2 separate regions of the Homo sapiens genome follow, and region 1 is linked to region 2. The links come from fine-mapping of genetic effects on gene expression. Tissue or cell type: unexposed skin. Region 2 holds a variant in brackets; the other region holds the start of a gene. All regions are shown on one strand. Distances are from middle to middle.

What was found. PIP is the estimated chance that this variant, and not a neighbour inherited with it, causes the effect.
Region 1: DNAH3 starts here. The variant in region 2 is fine-mapped to the expression of DNAH3 in unexposed skin (GTEx, PIP above 0.99).

What each region holds. Positions count from the first base shown.
Region 1 is chr16:21,147,531-21,155,530 of GRCh38, forward strand. DNAH3 (dynein axonemal heavy chain 3) reads right to left here and starts at 3,316. Exons shown (of 62, transcript NM_001347886.2): 1 at 3,221-3,316; 2 at 2,760-3,004. The coding sequence starts at 2,789. RefSeq lists an enhancer at 5,478-5,772.
Region 2 is chr16:20,981,650-20,989,649 of GRCh38, forward strand. DNAH3 (dynein axonemal heavy chain 3) reads right to left here. Exons shown (of 62, transcript NM_001347886.2): 45 at 6,293-6,416; 46 at 6,044-6,200; 47 at 5,656-5,799; 48 at 3,400-4,066; 49 at 1,072-1,237. Among named protein-coding and RNA genes, the nearest start is that of LYRM1, 85 kb to the left of the region's middle. The variant T/C (reference allele first, on the strand shown) is at 4,943.

The DNA of each region.
Region 1 (8,000 bases), 170 kb after region 2:
ACATGTGCAAAATTCCAAAGAGAAATTCACTCAGGCAGTGGCACTGAATTTTCTGTGTATTTAACACACACATAAGCAACTCTTTATGATTCCTGCGAAAAGAAAAAGTGTTATTTCAACAATGTGGGTGTTGAGTACTCCATTCCAACCAGTGAGTGCATACTGTGGAGTGAGCCTCAGGTAAGGGTCAACTTGTGGCTCCCACAATCACTCTCAGATTCCAAGTGACCCTCCACCTCTCCTGAGCAGAGAAGAAAGTGACTACATTATTGAATGAAATCACATGTGTTTTTGTCTTAAGACTTAGCCCCTATATGCAAAACAACCACTTCACCTGGGACTAGTGATGGAGAAACTGCAACTTGTTCCAACACTAGAAGAAAAGCTGTTGGCCTGGACTTATTGAGAGGTGCTGCCGTTCAGCACTTTAAAGGTGGTTTGAGGGATTTTCAAGGGCAATTTTGACTCTCTGTGATTTTCACCTTAGGCATTGACTTTGGACTTAACTCCTATATAAGATGAGCCAACATCGTATCAGTGTGATTTATTTGGGTGTGCAAATTATGACATGCAAGATCACTGATGAGGGTGGGATGGGGCAGGGGGCATATGACTATTAGCTGTCCCTCTGCCCCCAACCCCTTAAAGATGACTCAAATTAACCATCATTATCTCTCCCGGAGCACCTACCTCATTAAATAACAACAGAAAAACAACAACCGCAGCAATACTATCTACCATTATTCCAAACGATTATGTGCCAGGTACTGTACAACCTCATGAGATTTTTTTCATACCCGCATTCTAGCTGAAGAAAATGAGGGTGAGAAGATAGGTAACACATCCTAGCCATGTAATTGGCCGGCTTGACTTCTAAGTCAGTGACTTATTTATTATTATTATTATTATTTATTTTTTTTTTTTGAGTCCAAGTTTTCGCTCTGTCGCCCAGGCTGGAGTGCAGTGACACAATCTTGGCTCACTACAACTGCAACCTCCACCCCCTAGGTTCGAGCGATTCTCCTGCCTCAGCTTCCTTACTGCATCATGCAAACTGACAGGGACGCTGTTCTCGGGATAATGAAGAAAGCAAACCGTGAGCATTTTGCAGAACACAATGGAAAGAGGGAGAACCTCTGTAGAAACAAATTAAACTAGGCTATGTCATAGGCTTGGACTAAAACAAATACACAAACAGTCATAAGTACGCTGATAGCAGAAAGCATCCCAGTCTGTCGATCAGGAACACATGGGGCACACACAACATGAGCAGATCTAGGCATCAATTGCAGAATGGGGCTAAAAGAGTTTTCCTGGCAATAAATGGCTAAGAATCCTCTGTGGCACCTTCAAGAGATCGAGATTCTCATAAGAACTAGCTGGTTGTGCAAAATTGTTTGTTAAAAATATGAATGCTTGGCCAGCCGTGGTAGCTAATGTCTATAATCCCAGCACTTTGGGAGGCCGAGGCGGGTGGATCACTTGAGGCCAGGAGTTCGAGACCAGCCTGGCCAACATGGAGAAATCCCGTCTCTACTAAAAATACAAAAATTAGCCAGGCGGTGGCGCACACCTGTAGTTCCAGCTACTCAGGAGACTGAGGCAGGAGAATCGCTTGAACCCAGAAAGCAGACGCTTCAGTGAGTGAAGATCACGCCACTGCACTCCAGCCTGGATAACAGAGACAAACTGTCTCAAAAAAAAAAAAAGAAAGAAAGAAAAAGAAAGAAAGAAATTAATGCTTAAATCTTCTCTTTGGTAAATTTCAAGGAGCTTTCACTTCAGAGCATATTGGCTTAGTTATTATCTACAAATCCACTTTAGTTTTACAAAGTTTCTATTTAAAATGCTCCTCTGGGCACTTCGCTGTATGGCAACCTGGTGATTCAACACAGATACAACAGAAATTCTGGAACTTAGATTGGGTAGAACTGTCACTTTGGGCAGCTTATTGCTGATTACACATGTTGTATGTATGTTCTTCATGGAGGCCATTCCCAAATGCTCGTCTGAGGACGTGCTACACCAGAATCACTCTGGTCTTAGATAAAAATATAGATTCCAGGGCCCCACTCCAAATCTTCTGGATCGGAATCTAGGAGTGGGGGACCAAGACTCTATGTTTTTAAGATGCTCCCCAGAATATTCTAATGTTCAGCCACAGTCAAAAACTGATGGTTGGAATATATGGTCTAATGGGCTTGGAAGGGAAGGAAAGGGAAGAACGGGTGTCTATTCCCGGATTTTTCACAGCAAAACTTGAAGATTTCCAAAAGTCTAATTCAGCAAAAATGATATTTCAAAGCAGACAACAAAAAAATGTGATGAATACACTTGTTCAGTCAAGGGCATCTAACATGCCAATTGGCCCTCTTCCCACATATTCCCAACACATTAAAAATACAGGTAAATCGGCCAGACACGGTGGCTCACACCTGTAATCCCAGCACTTTGGGAGGCTGAGGCAGGCGGATCTCCTGAGATCGGGAGTTCAAGACCAGCCTGACCAACATGGATAAACCCTGTCTCCACTAAAAATACAAAATTAGCCAGGTGTGGTGGCACATGCCTGTAATCCCAGCTACTCAGGAGGCTGAGGCAGGAGAATCACTTGAACCCAGGAGGCGGAGGTTGCAGTGAGCCGAGATCACACCATTGCACTCCAGCCTGGGCAACAAAGAGCAAAACTCTGTCTCAAAATAAAAAATAAAAAAAAAAAATACAGGTAAAACAAGAAACGTCTTAAAATTCACACCTACCTTCTGAGATGAGCAATCCATGTCACCCATGGTGTCCACTCTAATTGTAGCTATTTTTTTAAAATGAATAAAGAGCTTTCAGCTTCTCCAGGGATGTGCCTCTCCTATCCAGTTGGTCTGAAATTCACACTTCCTTATAGCATAATGGGGATGACACCAACAATGGAACTTTCCAGATGTTCTGAAAGCTCTGTTCATGAGGTTGCCTCTCTGAGGTCATAGACTTTGGCCCGCTGAGGAGTTCCCTGGTAAAAAAGGAGAGAAAGGGAAGCTAGAGATAAGGGGACAGCACTGGGTTTCTGCTGCGCTTTTGGCTCTGGTTCCTAGTCCCCCAGCGGTGGCCACGCTTCCTTTCCCTTGAGTGCTTCTCTCTTGGAAATTTTCCAGAAACACACTGAGTTCACTGCAGAGGAAAGACTGAAGCAGAGTTACACATTAATACAGAGAAGAGGGAGACTCACCCCTCCAAACAACATCCTGGCAGCCCGAACTGTTCTCCCTCCTCCTCCCTGGACTCTTAACACTGGCAGTGCTTGTATGCAGGCGCTGGGCACAGTAACCATGTCTCAGCGTCTGTTGCTAAGGGAAGGAGGGGCCTCTGCGGTGCCTACATACAAGACTGGGCATGACCTAGCTCTGTGAGCTGGTGTCTCCCTTTGCTGGAGGCCCAGGTGGGCAGCAGGAAGTGTTGGTGACAGAAGGGAACATGGGAAGGTGTTTAGCAATGTTCCAGGAATAACAGAGGCAACAGCAATAAAAGACCTTTGGAGACGTCGAAAAGCACAGAGTATGGTGGTTAAGTTCTTGGGATCTACAATTGGACAGGTCATACTTCAGATCCTACTCTTCTCATTAATTAGCTGTGTGGCTTGGCAAGTTGTTTAATCTCTCCAAGTGTCCTTTCCGTCTGTAAAATGGCAATAATGTGAGTCCCTACTTCATAGGGTTGCTTTGAAGGGTTAACGGGATAACGTGTACAGAGCGATTTGCATATAGTAGAAGGATAACTGATATTTTCCCAGTTTTTCCCCGTTTTTTTTTTTTTTTTTGAGACAGAGTCTTGCTCTGTTGCCCAGGCTGCAGTGCAGTGGCGTGATCTCAGCTCACTGCAAGCTCTGCCTCCCGGGTTCACACCATTCTCCTGCCTCAGCCTCCCACCAGTGCGCCCAGCTAATTTTTTGTATTTTTAGTAGAGACGGGGTTTCACCGTGTTAGCCAGGATGGTCTCAATCTCCTGACCTCGTGATCCGCCCACCTCGGCCTCCCAAAGTGTGGGATTACAGGTGTGAGCCACTGCGCCCAGCCCAGTTTTTCCCCATTTTAACACTAAGTCCTGCATCCTGGGAGCAATCTCAGTCCTGGGCAAACTGGGATAGTTTGATCACCCAACACAGTCAATGCTCTATAAATGTTGTGGCTAACATCAATATTACGATAAACACAGAAATACATGTGCACATACTCAAAAGTAACAATATTAGCTGCCGCCCGAATATTAAAAGCACATGTTCCATGGTCACTGTGAAGTTCTCTCAAAACCAAGTTAGACTTAATGAGTTTTTTGGGGGTGCCATGCTTGCATATCTTTTTTTTTCATTCAATTTCCCCCCAAACACCACGATATTCCCATTTTAAGGATAAGGAATCAAAACTGAGAGATATGGGCCAGGTATGGTGGTTCATGCCTGTAATCCCAGCACTCTGAAAGGCTGAGGTGGATGGATCACTTGAGGTCAGGAGTTTGAGACCAGCTTGGCCAACATAGTGAAACCCCATCTCTACTAAAAATACAAAATTAGCCGGGCATGGTGGTAGTCGCCTGTAATCCCAGCTACTTGGGGGGCTGAGGCAGGAGAATCGCTTGAACCTGGGAGGGAGGTTGCAGTGAGCACAGATCATGCCACTGCACCCCAGCCTGGGCAACAAGAGCGAAACTCCATCTCAAAAAAAAAGAAAAACAAACAAAAAAACTGAGAGATACATAACTTTCCTAAGTCGACTTGACTCATAAGTAGCACTGATACAATTGGAACCTGTCCTGATGACCCCGAGTCCACTGCTCTTTCCATAACCTACCTGTCCAGAACACAAACATTCCCGAGTTCCTATGAAAAGCATTGCATAGTGAGAGGTGACAGCGTGCTGGCAGTCCTCACAGCCCTCGCTCGCTCTCGGCGCCTCCTCTGCCTGGGCTCCCACTTTGGCGGCACTTGAGGAGCCCTTCAGCCCACCGCTGCACTGTGAGAGCTCCTTTCTGGGCTGGGCAAGGCCGAAGCCGGCTCCCTCAGCTTGCAGGCAGGTGTGGAGGGAGAGGCGCGAGCGGGAACCCGGGCTGCGCACGGCGCTTGCGGGCCAGCTGGAGTTCCGGGTGGGCGTGGGCTTGGCGGGCCCCGCACTGGGAGCAGCCAGCTGGCCCTGCCGGCCCCGGGCAATGAGGGGCTTAGCACCCCGGCCAGCGGCTGCGGAGGGTGTACTGGGTCCCCCAGCAGTGCTAGCCCACCGGCGCTGCGCTCCATTTCTCACCGGGCCTTAGCTGCCTTCCCGCGGGGCAGGGCTCGGGACTTGCAGCCCGCCATGCCTGAGCCTCCCACCCCCTCCGTGGGCTCCTGTGCTGCCCGAGCCTCCCCGACGAGCGCCACCCCCTGCTCCACGGCGCCCAGTCCCACCGACCACCCAAGGGCTGAGGAGTGCGGGCCCACGGCGCGGGACTGGCAGGCAGCTCCACCTGCAGCCCCGGTGCAGGAGCCACTGGGTGAAGCCAGCTGGGCTCCTGAGTCTGATGGGGACGTGGAGAACCTTTATGGCTAGCTCAGGGATTGTAAATACACCAATCAGCACCCTGAGTCTAACTCAGGGTTTGTGAATGCACCAATCGACACTCTGTATCTAGCTGCTCTGGTGGGACCTTGGAGAACCTTTATGTCTAGCTTGGGGATTGTAAATACACCAATCAGCACTCTGTATCTAGCTCAAGGTTTGTAAACACACCAATCAGCACCCTGTGTCTAGCTCAGGGTCTGTGAATGCACCAATCCACACTCTGTATCTAGCTATTCTGGTGGGGCCTTGGAGAACCTTTGTGTGGACACTCTGTGTCTAGCTAATCTGGTGGGGACTTGGAGAACCTTTGTGTCTAGCTCAGGGATTGTAAACGCACCAATCAGCACCCTGTCAAAACAGACCACTAGGCTCTACCAATCAGCAGGATGTGGGTGGGGCCAGATAAGAGCATAAAAGCAGGCTGCCCGGGCCAGCAGTGGCAAGCCGCTTGATCCCCTTCTACAACGTGGAAGGTTTGTTCTTTCACTGTTTGGGTTCATGCCGCCTTAATAGCTGTAACACTCACGGTGAAGGTCTGCAGCTTCACTCCTGCGCCAGCGAGACCAGAAACCCACCAGAAGGAAGAAACTCCGAACACATCCGAGCATCAGAAGGAACAAACTCCAGACGCGCTACCTTAAGAGCTGTAACACTCACCGCGAGGGCCCACGGCTTCATTCTTGAAGTCAGTGAGACCAAGAACCTACGAATTCCAGACACAATAGAACCAAGTACTTCCATTTTCCCCCTTTTTCTACTCCTTTTCCTCAAAGTTGGGCTTTCCATCCTTTCAAAATAACCCTGAGCTTTTCCATCTCTTATATTATGCTCTTTATCACAAAGTATACATACGGTTTCAAATAGCATTTGGAATAATTGAGACAGTGGGAGAGCTGGAGACTCTGGTTTAGACGGAAATGGGAAGATTATCAGGTCTCCTATACTGGGTGTGAAACCTCATGTCCCACCAAAAACAGCAACTGTAATCCAATGAAGTGAAAAATTAGAATGGGGCCAGGCGCGGTGGCCCATGCCTATAATCCCAGCAGCTGGGGAGGCCAAGGCGAGTGGATCGCCTGAGGTCAGGGGTTCAAGACCAACCTGGCCAACATGGTGAAACCCCGTCTCTACTAAAAATACAAAAAATTAGCCGGGCGTGGTGGCAGGCACCAGTAATCCCAGCTTCTTGGGTTGCTGAGGCAGGAGAATTGCATGAACACAGGAGGTGGAGGTTGCAGTAAGCTGAGATCACACCATTGCACTCCAGCCTGTGTGACACAGCGAGACTCTGTCTCAAAAAAAAAAAAATTAGAATGGTCCTGATGTGGAGCTAATGGACCCTATGGCCTGTGTGTGAGTAGGAGGTATGCTACCATCTGAAATTTAGTGTGTTTTAAGTCTACTAGTGTTTAAAACTATCAAAACAATACTAATGGCTTTCGCTTATTGAGCATATACTATGCCCTGGGACTGCTGCTAGGCACTTAGTAGACATCATGTCTTTGAATCTTCTCAACAACCTAGAATATAAATATCAGTATTTTCACAAGTTTTATGATTGAGGAAACTGATACATTAAACTAACCTGCCCATAGTCACACAGCTAGGTCATCAGGAAAGCTTGAACTTGGTTATGAAATCTGTTCCATGGCTTCAACCGAAAACCTACATGTAATCTGAGGAAAGGTGGAAAATAAAGTATCTGCCAAAGAGAGTGAAAGTGACTTCCCCCAGGCCACCTCACCTGTACCAGAATTGTTTGTTGTCTGACAACTTTGTGTTGGATAATTCTTAAGAAAGGATATAGGCTTCAAGTTTCTCAATCTTCTTTTTCTTTCTTTCTTTTTTTTTTTTTTTTGAGATGGAATCTTGCTCTGTTGCCCAGGCTGGAGTGCAGTGGTATGATCTCGGCTCACTGTAACCTCCACCTCCTGGGTTCAAGTGATTCTCTTGCCTCAGCCTCCCCAGTAACTGGGATTACAGGCGTGTGCTAACACACCTGGCTTATTTTTGTATTTTTAGTAGAGATGGGGTTTTGCCATGTTGGCCAGCCTGGTCTCGAACCCCTGACCTCAAGTGATCTGCCCACCTCCGCCTCCCAAAGTGCTGGGATTCAGGCATGAGCCACCATGCCCGGCCTTGTTTCTCAATTGGGCTGCCAGACAAAACAGAAGGTGCCCAGTTAAATTAGAGTTTCAGTCAAACAATTTTTCAGGTAAAAGAATGTTTTAGGGCCGGGAGCAGTGGCTCATGCCTGTAATCCCAACACTTTGGAAGGCCGAGGCAGGCGGATCACAAAGTCAGGAGTTTGAGACCAGCCTGACCAACATGGTGAAACCCTGTCTCTACTAAAAATACAAAAATTAGCTGGGCGTGGCGGCACATGCCTGTAATCCCAGCTACTCCGGAGGCTTTGGCAGG
Region 2 (8,000 bases):
GGGAGGCGGAGGTTGCTGTGAGCCGAGATCGCACCACTGCACTCCAACCTGGGCGACAGAGTGAGACTCCATCTCAAAATAAATAGATAAATAAATAAATAAATAAAATAAACAATGATTGAACCTACTGTGTGCCAAGCACCTTCTAGAAACTAAGGAAACAGAGGTAGACAAGGTTGACTGATCTCTAGCCTTCATGGAACATCCAGAATGACTGATATTCTCACCTCTTCCCTTACTCTAGCCAAATAAAATGCTTTTTTTATATATGTATGCATATATACATACATAAAGTGTATAAAGCACATATATTATATATAATAAAGCATATATATAAAGCACATATATAATATATAATATATATAATTAAGTATATATATATAATAAAGCACATATATATATGTGCTTTATACATAAAAGAGTAAATTTTCACCCTTATAGGAACTAATTTTTGCCAGGTGCAGTAGCTCACACCTGTATTCCCAGCACTTTGGGAGGCCAAGGCGGGCAGATTACGTGAGGTCAGGAGTTCGAGACCACCCTGGCCAACATGGCGAAACCCCATATCTAGTAAAAATATAAAAATTAGCTGGACGTGATGGCAGGTGCCTGTAATCCCAGCTGCTTGGGGGAGGCTGAGGCATGAGAATCACTTGAATCTGGGAGGCAGAGGTTGCTGTGAGCTGAGATTGCACCAAGGAACTCCAGCCTGGGGGATAGAGCAAGACTCCATCTCAAAAACAAATAAACAAACAAACATTGTTTTGTGGTCTCAGCAGCAATCTTCTTCCTGTTGAGAATGCATATTCTAGGACTACTGAAATAGCTATATCATTATTCCAGGTTCTCATAGCTAGGACAAATCTCCAGGACAATTCTGAACAATGAAATTTTCTTCTTTTACAGACAAGATGCTTTATTAAATATCTAACTAACTGTGATTCAATTTAAAAGCATAAGACATTTGCTATATACAAATTGAGAAATCTTCAAAACAACAACAAAAATAGAGCCAGCGTCTGGACTTCAAATTTGGAATATCTAGAGTCCTAAAATGCAATCAACACTTACTCTACCCGAATGTTGTCATCAAGCTCCACATCCTCTAGAAATTTGTTAGCCACCAACTCTAGGGCATCTGTGGGCCAGGACTGGAACCAATCAATCGTACAGCAATTGATCAGCGAAGGGAACATCCGCAGGCGGTTCCTGAAGGCATCCCCTATTGGACTCATGGCTAATGAAAAGGAGATTTTGTTAATTACCTTCCTCCAAGGCAGGTGGACCCAAGGAGGCAGGCGGGTATTCCCAAGGATTCTGGTGGGGTAAGTGGGGGCAGGCTTCCTCCTGGCGCTCCAGGGATGTGACTGTCAATGGCCATAATGAGTGCCTGGGAAATGCGGGCTAATTAGTGGGATATTTTCACTTAACTTTGTGAGGAGCCCATTACAATAGCCCCTTTTTAAAAAAAATTTTAATTTTTTATTTTTTATTAAGACAGATTCTTGCTCTGTCACCCAGACTGGAGTGCAGTGGCGCAATCTCGGCTCACTGCAACCTCCGCCTCCTGGGTTCAAGCTATTCTCCTGCCTCAGCTTCCTGAGTAGCTGGGACTATAGGCACCCACCACCACTTCCAGCTAATTTTTGTATTTTTAGTAGAGACGGGGTTTCACCATTTTGGCCAGGCTGGTCTCAAACTCCTGACCTCAAGTGATCTGCCCGCCTCAGCCTCCCAAAGTGCTGGGATTACAGGCGTGAGCCACCATGCCTGAGTCTATTACCTTCTAACTGGTCTCCCATACACACTATTGTTCCTTCCGCATCCTTCGGGTCACGTAGCCAGTGTGGCTGGAGCCCTTTGATTGACTTGCTGTATTTGTGCTGATACACGGGAGCCATACACTGTTATTTATAGAAGTTGCTGTGAGGTCATCTGCTTGTTTCTGATCCCATCTCTGGCCAATAACAAATTTTGGGTTCCACACTTAAAATTCCATTCATTGTTATTTAGACTATGTGTGGTGGAAGGGAGCATGATGTCTAGGTGGAAGTGAAAGGTCACTGTGGGTAAAGAACAGAGGCCTGGCACAGTGGCTCACGTCTGTAATCCCAACACTTTGGGAGGCCAAGGCAGGAGGATCATTTGAGCCCAGGAGTTTCAGACCAACCTGGGCAACAAAGTGAACCCCACATCCCCGTCCCCTATCTCTACAAAAATGGAAAAAATTAGCTGGGCATCGTGGTGTGTGCCTGTAGTCCCATGTACTCAGGAGGCTGAGGTGAGAGGATCACTTGAGCCCAGGAAGTTGAGCCTGCAGTGAGCTAGAACCACATCACTGCACTCCAGCCTGGGTGACAGAGCAAGACCCTATATCCAGAAAAAAAAAAAAAAAAGACAGAAAGGGCGATGGTTTGAAAAGATGAAGGTGGAGAGGATACAGAGGACAGTCTGGCAGGTGGCCTTATGGCATTATGAGACCGCAGGTTAGTAATTTTGGTCCTTATCCCAATGTGTGTGTGTGTGTGTGTATATGTGTGCACGTGTGCGCATGCGTGCGTGTGTGTGTGTGTGTATGCATGCATGAACACAATGATAATATTTGCAGCATATGAAAAAAATCAGCCTGGCTTCATGGAACAGACAAGAATGGAGCTAGAATGATTAGAAAGTTGCAGAGGTGAGCCTGGGTAAAAGGATGGCAGCTTAGCCAATGTGAAGGTGATGGAGATGGAGATAAGAGAGTGGATATGAGACAGCTGGAGGTAACAGACAGGACTTGGTAAAGAAAGGGAAGTACTAAACACAATTGCTAGGTTTCTAGATACATTGGAAATGTCGTTCACAGAGAAAACCCGAGATGTCATTCTGTGCAAGGGTAATTCTCAGAGGAGAATTCAGGAAATTGAAGACGGGGGACAGGTTTGAAATTATTCAGGGTCCGGCACGGTGGCTTATGCCTGTAATCCCAGCACTTCGGGAGGCCGAGGCGGGCAGATCACTTGAAGCCAGGAGTATGAGACTAGCCTGGCCAACATGGTGAAACCCCTCTCTACTAAAAATACAAAAATTAGCAGGTGTGGTACGCGCCTGCAATCACAGCTACTCAGGAGGCTGAGGCACCAGAATCGCTTGAAACTGGGAGGCAGAGGTTGCAGTGAGCTGAGATCTCACCACTGCACTCCAGCCTGGGCAACAGAGCAAGACTGTCTTTAAAAAAAAAATTGCTGCTCAGAAGAGTGAAAAAAGTTGCCAGAGGAACTCCGGGCCCTGACCCCGAGCTGGTGCGTTGGCTGAATCAACCCTGGGACCATTGTAAGGGATTGGCCTGCTCAGGGCACTCAGAAGACCCCAAAACACCCAGAAGAACAAGGGCAAATGGAGTTTTCTTCTTCTTACCGAGGACAATGTGAAGGTTCTTTCTCACCCTCTCAATAAAGAAGTTATACATAGAAAGAGGAGTGACTTCAACCTTCTCTCCTTGGGTCCTGGCTGCAGTCTGCATCTTCTCCACGATGTCAGCCTTCTCGTCAGCAGGGAAGATGTTAGGCACGTCACCTGTGTTCAGAAGCATGTTGATGTCCTCCACGAATGATTCATCCTTGATCTGGTTGTCGGCGAAGAGGAACACGGTGCTCTTGGTGGCCACACCGACCTGCAGTATGATCTTCTTAAGATCTTCTCGCCAGTCATTGCCTGCGTAGTTCTTGGTGATCTCAATCTGGTATAGCTCGTATGCGTTCATGAATGTGGACAGTTTGGCGGCACTTTGCCGCCCGCTGCCCCCTATGCCCACCAGGAGCAGGTGGCCTTTGTCCTGCTTCAGGACACGGCAGATCCTAGAGATGTGCTCAATGGCAAACCTGAACATGACCAGGGACATGGGGGCCTTGCTGATGTTGTTGAATTCTTCCAGATAGTGCTCCATGACCACAGTCAGCTGTTTCAGGTCAGTGATCTCATCGTAGATTTTTTGGTCACTTTCTGGCTTGAAATAATCTCCAAAGAAGAGGCTTCGAATGTTATCATCGACTATCTTTCCAGTGGGTGACAAGTGGATAAGCACCTGTAAGAAAAGTAAATCTCGGCGGGGCATTCAGTGAATGGCCCAGCCAGGCTGGTAGGGACATCATGGAGGGAGGGCATGGGAGACGTGGCTTATTTCCTCTGAGCACATCCTTCAAGGTCATGGGTCATCAGTTTTGTTTTGTTTCGTTTTGTTTTGAGACAGAGTCTCACTCTGTCGCCCAGGCTGGGGTGCAATGGTGTGATCTCGGTTCACTGCAACCTCTGCCTCCTGGGTTCAAGCGATTCTCCCGCCTCAGCCTCCCAAATAGCTGGGATTACAAGCACCCACCATCATGCCTGGCTAATTTTTGTATTTTTGTAGAGATGGAGTTTCATCATGTTGGCCAGGCTGGTCCTGAAACTCCTGATATCAGGTTACCTGCCCACCTCGTCCTCCCAAAGTGCTGGGATTACAGGCATGAGCCACTGTGCCCGGCCCAGTCTTTTTGTTTTTTAAACATAATATGTGGATTTCATGCTTGTAAAGACTATAATGAAAGAACATTGCTGGGCACGGTGGCTCATGCCTGTAGTCCCAGCACTTTGGGAGGCCGAGGCAGAAGGATCATTTGAGCTCAGGACTTCAAGACCAGCCTGGGCAACATAGTGAGACTCAGTCTCTACAATAAAATAAGAAAAAATTAACTGGGCATCGTGGTGCACACCTGTAATCCCAGCTACTCAGGAGGCCGAGGTGGAGGACTGCTTGAGCCCAGGAGCTTGAGGCTGCAGTGTGCTATGATCATACCATTGCACTCCAGCCTGGGTGACAGAGTGAGGTCCTACCTCTAAAAATAAATATTTTTTTTGTTAAAAGAAAGGACATTAGAGTATGAACGCTTTAATCAGTCTATTTGCCATGTGATTAAAACAT[T/C]GGTGATCAGTTTGTACGGTCCCCAGAAAAGACAGTTGAAGGATGTGCTTTTCTTAGGTGCTTGATCCTCCACCAAATAGAAGTATAGACACTATCCTGGTCCCCACTCTGTGCCTGGAGTAGGAACGTTTTAGATGCCTCCTCGTCCTATGTTAGAACCCAGTGACGCTTTTGCACTTGGCCTCTGAACGCAAGATAAAACACTTGAAATTTTTCTATGGAGAAATCACAGCTTCTTAGCAGTGGAAGAATAACCAGATGATAAAAATATAGATGTTTAAAACAACTTTTCTTATATGGAAATGGAAAAGAGAAAATATTCACACCTGGAAAACCATAACAATCTTTCACTTGAGCTTTATAGGACCTCAGTCAAATCATGACAATGTACAGTTCATTTCTCAACTCACCAATTAATTGATCCTAAAAATGCATTTTAAGTTCATAATAAACATTCATTTATAATGAACTTAAAATGCATGTTAAGCCATTTTGAGTGGATTCAAACTTATATGTTACAACAGAAGGGAAGCAAAGTTGGACCAAGTAAAATATCACCAAGTCAAAAAGAGCAGTTGACTCAATACTGTTTCCCGAGATTCAGAGTGCAGAGCTGGCAGTCTCCAACAGGAAGGGAACCTGAAATCTGAAAGTAACGTGGTTAAACACTTGGAACCATTTCTGAGGTCAAATGATCACAGAATCTGGTTTACCTTCTCTATGGTCTGCTTGAAGCAATTGGAGGTGGTTTCCTTCACCATGTTGAAAAAGACCTGTCTGTCCTCCTTGTCAATCAGACGATCATAGAAGACCCGATAAACCTCATGGATCCAAAGCCGGATACATTTTTCTACATCCTAAAAATCCAGAGTTAATTATTCAAACGAGTGGAAGATGGTCCCTGAGGTGGTAGTTCTCAGTAGTAGGTAAGTCCTGGGGTTGATTTGAGGATTGAACTAGATAATGTTTATAAAATGCTTAGCACAATGCCTAGCATAGACTAAGTGCCTAATAAAAGTTAGCTATTACTGCTATTACTACATGTTCTATGTAGCCAAGGATATGCTGAATGATCTTGGTAGTAAAATGATAGTGGCTGACCTGCAGGTGTGTGTGAGGGCACAGCAGGACCCCTTGAATCACTCGTGAGAAGTCCCGCAGGTTAAAGACGTAATGTGACTTCGAGGGAGTTGGCAAGAAGTTCTCCACTGCATCTCTATAAATTGTCTTAGTAGCTTGGACCAGCATCTTTCCGTACCTTGGGAGGAAAGGGATGGCACAGTAGTCAAGGAGGGGCCAGAAACTGAGAACCCCCAGCCCACTATCCAGGAAGACAGAGAAACCTCTTACCTTAAAAACATCACATCAAACCCTTTCCCGAAGTGCCAGTCAACAATCGAACTGAAAATCTTGGTTAAAATGTCATCCTCAAAGGCATTGATGGAAATGATATTCAGATGGCGAGTGAATCGTCCTGGGGAATACAACACACAAGTGAATCATCCTGGAAAACACATATTCTCACACTGTCTGTGACCCTAGGATGCACACGAGGTGGCTTTGCCTTCTGCCTTCATGTTCCAGAGCTGTGCTGTGCAATATGGCAACCTCTAGCCACCTGCAGCAAATTTAAACTTAAATTAATTAATATTAAATAACATTAAAAATGCTCTTCCTTAGTCTCACCACACTTCAAGTGCTCAAGAGCCACATGTGGCTAGTGGCTACCGTATTGCTCAGTACAGATATAGAGCATCTCCATACTGCGGAAGTTCTACTGAGTGCTAGTTTAGTGCTCATTATTATATCATATCATGTTGTATTATATTACATTACTTTTTGAGATGGAGTTCCCCTCTGTTGCCCAGGCTGGAGTGCAGTGGTGCCATCTCAGTTCACTGCAACCTCCGCCTCCCGGGCTCAAGAGATTCTCCAGCCTCAGCCTCCAGAGTAGCTGGGACTACAGGCCTCCCAGAGTGCTGTGATTGCAGGCATGAGACACCGCGCCCAGCCTCAAGAATGTTTTTAAAAGATAAAGGCAATACATGATCATTGTAAAAGAGTCTATCAATTCAGGAATACTTTTGTTGAAAGTGAAAATCTCCTTTTGTGTCCGGAATTGGTGGGTTCTTAGTCTCACTGACTTCAAAAATGAAGCCGCGACCCCTCGCGGTGAGTGTTACAGCTCTTAAGGTGGCGCGTCTGGAGGTTGTTCCTTCTGATGTTCGAATGTGTTCGGAGTTTTTTCCTTCTGGTGGGTTCGTCATCTCGCTGGCTCAGGAGTGAAGCTGCAGACCTTCGCGGTGAGTGTTACAGCTCTTAAGGCGGCATGTCTGGAGTTATTCGTTCCTCCCGGTGGACTCGTGGTCTCGCTGGCTTCAAGAGTGAAGTTGCAGACTTTCGCGGGGAGTGTTACAGCTCATAAAAGCAGTGTGGACCCACAGAGTGAGCACCAGTAAGATTTACTGCAAAGAGCGAAAGAACAAAGCTTCCACAGTGCGGAAAGAGACCCGAGCGGGTTACCACTGCTGGCTCGGGCAGCCTGCTTTTATTCTCTTATCTGGCCCCACCCACATCCTGCTGATTGGTAGAGCCGAGTGGTCTGTTTTGACAGGGTGCTGATTGGTGCATTTACAATCCCTGAGCTAGATACAAAGGTTCTCCTCGTCCCCATCAGATTAGTTAGATACAGAGCATCTACACAAAGGTTCTCCAAGGCCCCACCAGAGCAGCTAGATACAGAGTGTTGATTGGTGCACTCACAAACCTTGAGCTAAACACAGGGTGCTGATTGGTGTGTTTACAATCCTTGAGCTAGACATAAAGTTTTTCCAAGGCCCCACCAGAGCAGCTAGATACAGAGTGTCGATTGGTGCACTCACAAACCTTCAGCTAAACACAGGGTGCTGATTGGTGTGTTTACAATCCCTGAGCTAGACATAAAGGTTCTCCAAGTCCCCACCAGACTCAGGAGCCCAGCTGGCTTCACCTAGTGGATCCCGCACCGGGGCTGCAGGTGGAGCTGCCTGCCAGTCCCGGGCGGTACGCTCGCACTCCT